2 linked regions of the Homo sapiens genome follow. The protein of the gene in region 1 purifies or fractionates together with the protein of each later gene. This does not show direct contact. Each region holds a gene or a part of one and is shown in the gene's direction. Other genes may lie near its edges.

Region 1 (6,949 bases):
AATTTTATATTTTTAGTAGATATGGGGTTTCAACATGTTGGTCAGGCTGGTCTCGAACTCCTGACCTCAGGTGGTTCACCTACCTCGGCCTCCCAAAGTGCTGGGATTACAGGTGTGAGCCACCGCGCCCGGCCTATGCTGTTTTTAAAAAGTTCTGTTTTCTTTGTTCAGTTGCTACAACTGAAATGTATTGGTTTATATTTATTATTTTAGTTTAGGTCTTTTTTTTTTTTCTTTTTTTGTGAGACAGGTTCTATGATCCTACTTTACTCTAGCACTTTTTCCTAGGAAAATTATATTTAGCCTGTATCATTTTAGCCTAAATATACCAATAAAAACATAATGGTAGATAAAATATGAAAATCCTTTTGTACTAACTGGTAAGTAGCTGCCCCATCCTACCACACCCTTCATACCACCAAGTCAGGCTCAGTCCCCAGCTGAAGAGCCTCTGGACCTCTTCAAGATCCTACAACTAAAGAATTAACACCTGACAAAATAGGGTGGGGGGAGGGAAGTCTTCAAGCCTGCTTCCATTCTGATTGGTCAGTGATATAGGGATTGATAAATATTTTAAATGTGGTCCTACCTAGAAGTCTTAAGTTCAGCTTTTTTCATTCTTCATTGTTTTTGTATTTTCTGTTATTTTCTAACTTGAATACTTTCTTTTGTACCTAGTCTGACAGCCTAGGTACAAAGTTCTACATCATAAGTCAGGTCAAGTATCACTTCCTCTGTGAAGTTTTCCCATATAGTATGAGGAAGATTTAGGTTCTCTCATTTTAGAATTTTTTTATGCTTAAGACATACCACCAAAATATTAATGATCTCATAATGTTTATCTGTATTTACAACTCTTTCCCCATGAGAAACAGTGTCATTTCCTTTGGGCATCCCCAGTGCCCAGAATAGTTTGTGAGACATTATAAATATTGTATTCATTGAACAAATCAATGAATAGTTGATTAGGTCAACCAGCGGGTTTGCATGGCTGAAGAGACTGTAACTGTGGTTGAGGATATCTGAGGAGATTCGAATCCAATAAAATTGTCTAGTTGGAGTCTTCAGGAGGCAAGTCTAGAATATGAGCATATCTAAGAAAACTGATAAATCTGTGGTTATGCTGAATTATTTTTCCATTTGCTATTAGCATGGATAATCAAGAATAGACTATCATAGGCCAAGCATGGTGGCTCATGCCTGTAATCCCAGCACTTTGGGAGGCTGACGTGGGCAGATTACCTGAGGCCAGGAGTTCGAGACCAGCCTGGCCAATATAGCAAAACCCCATCTCTACTGAAAATACAAAAAATTAGCCGGCCGTGGTAGAGTGTGCCTGTAGTCCCAGCTACTCAGGAAGCTGAGGCAGGAAAATCGCTGAACCTGGGAGGCAGAGGTTGCAGTGAGCTGAGATCGTGCTACTGCACTCCAGCCTGGGCAACAGGGCAAGACTGTCTTAAAAAAAAAAAAAAAAAAAGAAAGAAGGCCAGATGTGGTGGCTCACGCCTTTAATCCCAGCACTTTGGGAGGCCGAGGCGGGTGGATCATGAGGTCAGGAGTTTGAGACCAGCCTGGCCAAGATGGTGAAATCCTGTCTCTACTAAAAACACAAAAATTAGCTGGGCGCGGTGGTGGACGCCTGTAATTTCAGCTACTCAGGAGGCTGAGGCAGGAGAATTGCTTGAACCCGGGATGTGGTGGTTGCAGTGAGCTGAGATCACGCCACTGCATTGTAGCCTGGGCAACAGAGCAAGACTCTGTCTCAAAAAAAAAAAAAAGAATAGACTATTATAAAAATGATTCTTTTTTATATGCTTACAGAAGACATAAAAAGAGAAACATAATGGGCTCTAGTATTCCAATCCAATTTCTCTTATTATTATGGAGTGTAACATTTAATATCAATATTTCTAATTTTCTGAGCATCTACTTATAATTGAGCACTGATGTACTATGAAAATTATAATAAATAAATTATAATTGAGCATCTATAATTTATTGAGTATATGCTAAGGACTGTGCTAATGATGTTACAACATTTAGCGATTAAACAATGCAAATTTAATTGTGTTATATCCCGACTTAAAACCTTTTAAATGATTCCTCATTGCTGTCCCAATGAGGTCCAACTTTTAGGCAAAAAATTAATTAAATCATTTATCATGATAGAGATGACCTCTTCTAGGAAGGCTTTTCTAATTCTCTAGGTCTGGATTAGGTGATATTTCTTTTTTTTTTCTTCGAGATGGAGTCTCACTCTGTTGCCCAGGCTGGAGTGCAGTGGCGTGATCTTGGCTCACTGCAACCTCTGCCTCCCGGGTTCAAGTGATTCTCCTGCTTCAGCCTCCCGAGTAGCTAGGACTACAGGCGCGTGCCACCACGACTAGCTAATTTTTTTTTTTTTGTATTTTTAGTAGAGGCGGGGTTTCACCATGTTACCCAGGATGGTCTCGATCTCCTGACCTCATGGTCTGCCCGCCTCGGCCTCCCAAAGTGCTGGGATTACAGGCGTGAGCCACTGCACCCGGCCCTAGGTGATATTTCTAAAGGCCACCTTATATTTTAAGTAAATTGAATGGTTCCAGTTATAAAAATAAGTATTAACAACCCTATTCTAATTTCTTATTAGTTACAAAAATTTCTTGTTCAGTTTTCTGTCTTCTTCACTAGAGTACAGATTTCTTGAGGACAGGCACCTAACAGATCTACAACACAGTGATTGCTAAATAAATACTGAACCAATACATTCATATAATGAGAAGTTACATAAAAAAACAATAACCACACGGTACCATCTAATATTATTTTCAGGCTATTCTTGCCTTGCAAAACATATGTACTTTTATTCTTTTTTTTTTTTTTTTTTTTTGATAAGGGGTCTTGCTCTGTAGCCCAGGCTGGAGTGCAGTGGTGAGATCTTCGCTCACTGCAATCTCGGCCTCCCAGGTCCCAGTTCAAGCAACTCTCCTGCCTCAGCCTCCTGAGTAGTTGGGATTACAGGCACGCACCACCATGCCTAGCTAATTTTTGTAATTTTAGTAGAGACGGGGTTTCACTATGTTGGCCAGGCTGGTCTTGATCTCCTGACCTCAGGTGATCCACCCCCCCTCAGACTTCCAAAGTGCTGGGATTACAGGCCTGAGCCACGGCACCTGGCCAAAACATATGTACATTTATTCTATCATTTAGTGCTTCCAACCTAGTTCAACTATAGTCATGATTGCCATTATACAGGTGAGAAAACTGAGTAACACACTTATTCCGAGGAACCGGCAAGGAAGCTGCAGTAGTTGAACTTGAACCCAGATCTCTTAACCAGTAAGGCAGTGACTTGTCCACTACCTCCTGTGGAATTCATTAAAGGCCGACTCCCAGCATGAAATTGAATAAATGGGATGAATACAACTTCTGGTGAGAGAGTATGATAAAAAGTGCTTGCTCTGTTACCAAGCAACTGAAAGAAAGTATGTTTTTTTCATTCCTTCATTATTAATACAATTCAAAGTACATTCTGTGAATTTAAAACATAAATGATGAATAAATCAACATACTCCTGGCTTTTATGAAAATCTTTCCCTCTGCTCTTTAAACTCTCACCTACCTCCTTCCTTCTTTCTTTTCTAAGCCTCATAGAGGGCGCTCACAAAGTGCTACTTATTGATTGAGGAAGATCCACTCAAAAAACACACCTCACACTGCAACTGAGAGACGCAGCGCCACCACCTCGGGCTTCCTTCTCTTTTCCACGCAGGAGGCGGGGCCAATGTCCCTCATTCAAATAAAAAACCAGAATTTGCATGGGGAATGGCTAGTCCTTGAGCTTATTGGCTGATAGCACAGTGGGCGGGGTACATAGCACGACCCCCCGGAGCCCCGCCCATATTAATTTGCATAACGGCCCCGGCGCGTGCAAGGGAGAAGCGGGTTTGTTTTTGAATCTGCGGAGGCGGCGGCGGTGGCAGCGGCGGCGCGGCGACTGAAGCGCGCGAAAAGCTGAGGCGGCAACGTCGGGGACGGCTGCGCGGGACGGCTCTGTAGGAAGGAACTTGGTTCCCCCTCCCTCAGCTTCCGCCCCAAAAGGTATATGTGAATCCCAGGGGCTGTTAAAACCACATTTTCTTAAATTACTATTGTATTTCTGAAGAGTCAAGACCGCATTATGGCGGCTGCGGGAGTTGTGTCTGCGCCTGCGCGGTTGCGGAGCTGCGGGCGGCGCTGCATGGGAGCACGTGATCTTGCGGGGTCGGGCTCTAGCTGCAGTTGTGCAGCTGGCGGGGCGGTGGCTGCGCAAGCGCAATATTCATTTTCAAGATCTAATGTTCTTGTTGGACGCCATTTGGGTTCTAGATTTAATTTTCCTCGTTCTTGAGGGGTTTCTTTGTGTTAACCTTAAATTCTCACAATTTTCAAGAAAAACATTACTCTAATGTTGTACTCCTGGGCCGACCTCAAGCTCTTCTCTGTTTTTTCGATTTTTTGAAAAATTGTGGACTTAATTTTCTGTAAAAATGATTTTCATTTGTGGTTCTTGATTATAATTTCAGTTTTAAAGTATTACTGGATTCAGGTTTATATTTACGGTGGTAAAGATCAGCACCTAGTGGTGTTCTCACGGGAAGTGCATTTATTTGAACTGCATATTTGCAAATACATTTTTAACCCTATTTTTACCTGTTCTGTTATGGATGTGTGGAATGTTTACAAAACAGAAACAATTTTAGTTTTGGGAATATTGGGGGAACGGGAATAGTGGAAGAAATTACAGTATAATCGAAAATGAAATCTCAATCTGAGGATTATTTTGGTTTTAAATGTTTGATCCTAAGTAAATAAAGTTTTAATTTTAATCAGTTTGTATGTTTCTGGGCATTTGAATTTTACATGTTTTAAGTTTCTTAGGTGACTTGTTCATTACTGCTTCAGCTAGATTATTGTTACTTTTGAAATTAATCAACTCATTTTCTTAGCATTTTTGTTTGCTATGATATGTAAGCTATAACATTTATTTGGTAAATTTTTCTGATGAAGAATTCTAGAAAGAACATCCATTACCCTGAGGCCTCTTTGAAGAAAGTGGACCATTAATAAAAAAAATCTGTTTTTTTCTTTTAAACACTGTACTGTATGCATGTGTGTAAGATACAGTTGTGTTTGATTTTTTAATTGTAAGTGTGCTCCTGGTTTTATTAATAGTTTTTTAGGGAAGGTAATTATAAATATGCTACTGATTAGTTTAAAATGGTAGTGTCAACTATAGTTAAATCTTATGTAACACAATTGGGGGAAGTTATATAAGATTTGATATGATTCTCCCGTTGTGCAAATTCTTTCTTACTAAGCAAAGAAACTTGCAAATGTTTTCCATAGACTTCATTTGTGGTTCATATATACAACAACTGGTTTCTTGGTTGGTTATAACTCTTTAAGTTTGAATCAGTCTACTGTCAAATGAAGACGTGCCTCTTGCTTTATAATCTCGGTTAATTTAGGGAAATTTTTATTGCCTAAAACAAATACCATTAGTAAATATTACCTAGATGTAATTGAAAGTAATACTTTTGGTTGGTGGATTTTTAAATGACGTCACATATGAGATAGAATGGAGGTAGGAAAGATTCTTCTTTTTTTCTCAAGAGAATATTTGACCTGATGTAATTCTTGGATCTCTGAGGTCTTCTACACAGAAGTATATTTAGAGAGCAGTTGTGTAATTTTCTCCCTTTTATGTTTCTGGAGTGGTTACCTAGCAGCCCCTTTCTACCACATGCTATTTCAGGCATTTTCGAGTTGAACATACACATAAATATTTCGGTTAACAAAAGAACTTTGATCTTTGATCTTAGGGCATGGTACACTTTACATTTCCAGAAAAATGAAATAGTTTGGTGTATATAAGCGTATGTTTTCATTTGAATATACAGATGATTGCTTTTTAGGTTAATATTGAAGGTAGTAAGAGGTATTTGAAAATGCTCTTGAATATGAAGAACATATTTATTGATGGGACGATTTTGCTGTCATGTTTCTTACAAGGCAGATATAATCATGTAAACTTAATAAGATTAATTAATTGCCTGAACACCAACTATTTGTTTATTAGTACTTTGTCAATAACAAGTATATTTTAAAATTTTAGTTTGGTGGTTATGATGCCACAAAATTTTGACACATATCCAACATATATAAATATTAAGACTAGGTTACTCCAGGAATGAATACCAAGTTACTGAAGTTATTTAAAATCTTTGTAGTTTTGTAAATTTAAAAATTTATATGTAGTTTAGAAAAGACAGGTTTGAGTTATTAAACAATTAGAACTATTTTTTCTTTAAATTAGGTTTTGCATATGTGATAAATGTATTTAAATATTTTTAAACTTATTCATTATAGAACATTTGGAAAATATTGAAAATTAATTAACAATGCTTAGAAATAACCACTCTAAAGGTATTGGTGATTTGTGACTTCACTTTTCCATGATTGAGCAATCTATAAATGTTTATTAATTAGTTTTTCATTGGTACCATAATTTCATTTCTACTCTTTTAATGTTATGAGTATTTTCCCATTTCATTATTCTTCTAAAATATGTCTTTAAATGGTTGCATGATACTTTATTATAATATCCCACATGATCAAATGTTCTTTTTAAACACATTTTAAAATGGTTACATATTATTGTTATCTCTAAGAAGAATTTACTGTGATTTATTAAACCTTTCATTTTTTGTTTCCTGTTTTGCTTTTTGCTCATTTCTCTATTAAAAATAATGCTACAGTGAACGTTCTTGTACTATACCTCAGAATATTTCTTTGAAATTACTTTCAAAGGACTTTTAAAGTAATTTGCAAAATTGATAAAAACTTTTTTTTGAAAAGCATTTTTTATCATATTCAATACCACCATCAATTAGATGGGTGAAAAATAGTAGCTCATTAACTTTTTTTG
Region 2 (2,867 bases), on another chromosome or scaffold:
TCACCTCATTTTACAGAAAAAGGTATTGAAGTTTAGAGATTAAATAACTTGCCCAAGATGCTTGTGTGTAGAAGAACCAGGATTCAAATCTATGCTATAATACTCTTAAAGCCAATGTACTTGACCATTATGCTACTTAAGCTCCAGTTTGTAAGAAATATTTTGAATATTTTATGGATAGCAGCTCAAAAATGGAACCAGTGAAGTCTGTTATTTTATCGTATTATTTAAATATATGTTAAAATATTGTCTATATGCTATAAAGAAATGCCATTTATATTTAAGGATATTGACTTTCTGAGTTTTACTCCCCAGGGGGCATAGATATGGACGCATTTCAGGAGCGTGAGGAAGGCCATGCTGGGCCTGATGACAACGAAGAGGTCATGCGAGCACTGCTCATTCACGAGAAAAAGACTTCCTCTGCCATGGCTGGTTCAGTGGGGGCAGCTGCTCCAGTGACCGCTGCCAATGGCAGTGACTCAGAAAGCGAGACCAGTGAGTCAGATGATGATTCTCCACCCCGTCCGGCAGCTGTGGCTGTGCATAAACGAGAAGAGGATGAAGAGGAAGATGACGAGTTTGAAGAAGTAGCAGATGACCCCATTGTCATGGTGGCTGGCCGTCCGTTCTCCTACAGTGAAGTGAGCCAACGGCCAGAGCTAGTGGCCCAGATGACACCAGAAGAAAAGGAAGCATATATAGCAATGGGACAACGCATGTTTGAGGACCTCTTTGAGTGAGCTTTCCCTAATTCTTTCTCCTTTCTCTAATGCTCAGTTCAAAAAGGAATGTCTCATCTTTGAAGAAAAGTATTTAAGTGGCTTTCTGCCCCTCTTGATGTAAGCAACTGTCCATCCTTGTGCAAAGATTGATGGTAGAGAGTTTGACTTTTATGCCAGAAACTTTCCCAGCAAGGTAGGGTGCTGAGAATCCTACCCTTCCTTGCTGTCACTACAGTATTAATATTTTACTGTATTTTCTTTTCTTTTTTTTTTTTTTTTGGAGATGAAGTCTCACTCTTGTACCCCAGGCTGGAGTGCAATGGCGTGATCTCGGCTCACTGCAACCTCTGCCTCCTGGGTTCAAGCGATTCTCCTGCCTCAGCCTCCCGAGTAGCTGGGATTACAGGTGCCTGCCACCATGCCTGGCTAATTTTTGTATTTTTAGTAGAGGCAGGGTTTCACCATGTTAGCCAGGATGATCTCGATCTCCTGACCTCATGATCCACCCGCCTCGGCCTCCCAAAGTGCTGTATTTTCTTATCTGATTTTTTTCTTGCCTTATTAAGACATAATTTTCTCCCTTCTGAAATGAGTGAGGGAAGTTCATAAGGTAAATCCTTCCCATCCATCTGTTTACTACAATAGGTTACAATAATTCACTGATCACATCCATTTTATCTGTTCTAGCCAGGCATTCCAAACAATTTCTTATACTGCTGCCCACCAAAGCAGCTTGCCAACAGTCAAATCACTGATTGGGGGAAAAAATCCTGAAATTTTGCTTAGAATTTGAGCATTTCCTCAAAATTGAGATGGATCAATATGTAAGGGGAGGTGGGAGCGTGTGTGGAAGGGGGAGAGATATACTTGAGTCTTATGATTAATGTCTAAACCAGAATTTGTGTCTTTAGAACTGACCAGACTGGTAGATTTTATTGTATTGCTTAATGTCTTTTGGTTTGGATTTAGGATGATAGAAAACAGAAGTATAATTGGTAAACCCTTAGGAAGAAATTAGAAAAACATGGACGTAAGACAAGAAGTCTCTGTGAAGGGTTGAAGAGTGACAAGCATTGGTAACAGTGCCTTAGAACTGTGTCAGTTAGTCTGATTTGGAAATCCTTTATGTAAAGCTGAGACTGGTCCTGGTTTTGTTCCCTTTGGGTACAGACCTCTTGTCAGTGCTATAAATTGTTTAATGAGGCCATTCCAGCAGAAATCAACAGAATAATTGATTACTCTTCTCTCTCTCTGTCACTCTCCCTCTTTCTAAACATCATTGAAGGCTGTCTCTCTTTTAATTTTTGTCAGACACAGTATTTTAGGGTGCATCCAGTATACCATTGAGCATTGTAACCTCAGGAAACAGTTTATTTTGGGTTCTGATATGTAGCATGGTATTTTCCCTAAGGCAGAACTTTAAAAATAAAGAACTTTCACACAAGGGTCTGTAACAATTGTATATCTTACAATATTTTTCCTTGCATTGTAATTTTTAAGTATTTATCATTTTATAGTACACATGTAAAGAATATATGAGCCTTGTATGGAGTGATGTTTCATTTACCTGGGTTGTGTTAATGACTGAATGTTGACAATAAATCTGTTTTATACTGACTGAAGTTTGTTCATTTTAAGTTCTGTAACATCTTGGGGCATATTAAAATGAATATTCTTCCCATTAAAAAAATGTTAAAGACTTTTTTATTAGTCATATTTCAAATGATAGATGCATATGGGATCTAAACTTTTTGTGCAATAAGATGCCTTTGTACCTTGTATACGTAAAGTATTCAACTTTTACACTTGATCTTAGCCAAAAGACCAAGAAGCAATGCTCTTCAGCTTTTAAACATTGTTTTTTAAACTTTTATAGTTCTAGAAGTTAATTTAAATAAAATGGTAATCAGATGTTAATTTTTAAAATGTAGTTAATTTTTTAAACTATTTTTTGTAAGTGTGTTCATGTATATGTAGAATTCGTGTTATGGGAAAATGTCACAAGTGAATATGGAGGTAAGAATAAAGGTATTCATTGCAGCAGTATTTGAAATAGAATAGAAAGATAGATATACTCACTAAATCTGTATTTAGTCCTAAGTACTCAGGAGGCCAAGGCAGGAAGATTGTTTGAGCCAGGAG

What was found. Proteins that work in one complex are often made in the same cells at the same time.
Region 2: the proteins of ATF7IP (region 1) and GTF2E1 purify together in Homo sapiens (affinity purification with western blotting; 2 studies listed by BioGRID, with this or other methods). This does not show direct contact.

Annotation. Positions count from the first base shown.
Region 1 is NC_000012.12:14,361,748-14,368,696, forward strand, and holds the start of ATF7IP (activating transcription factor 7-interacting protein 1), read left to right. Parts: upstream 1-3,934; 5' UTR 3,935-4,080; exon of another isoform or gene 4,081-5,443; intron 5,444-6,949. UniProt on the Homo sapiens protein: Recruiter that couples transcriptional factors to general transcription apparatus and thereby modulates transcription regulation and chromatin formation. Can both act as an activator or a repressor depending on the context.
Region 2 is NC_000003.12:120,780,728-120,783,594, forward strand, and holds the end of GTF2E1 (general transcription factor IIE subunit 1), read left to right. Parts: intron 1-315; coding exon 316-743; 3' UTR 744-2,342; downstream 2,343-2,867.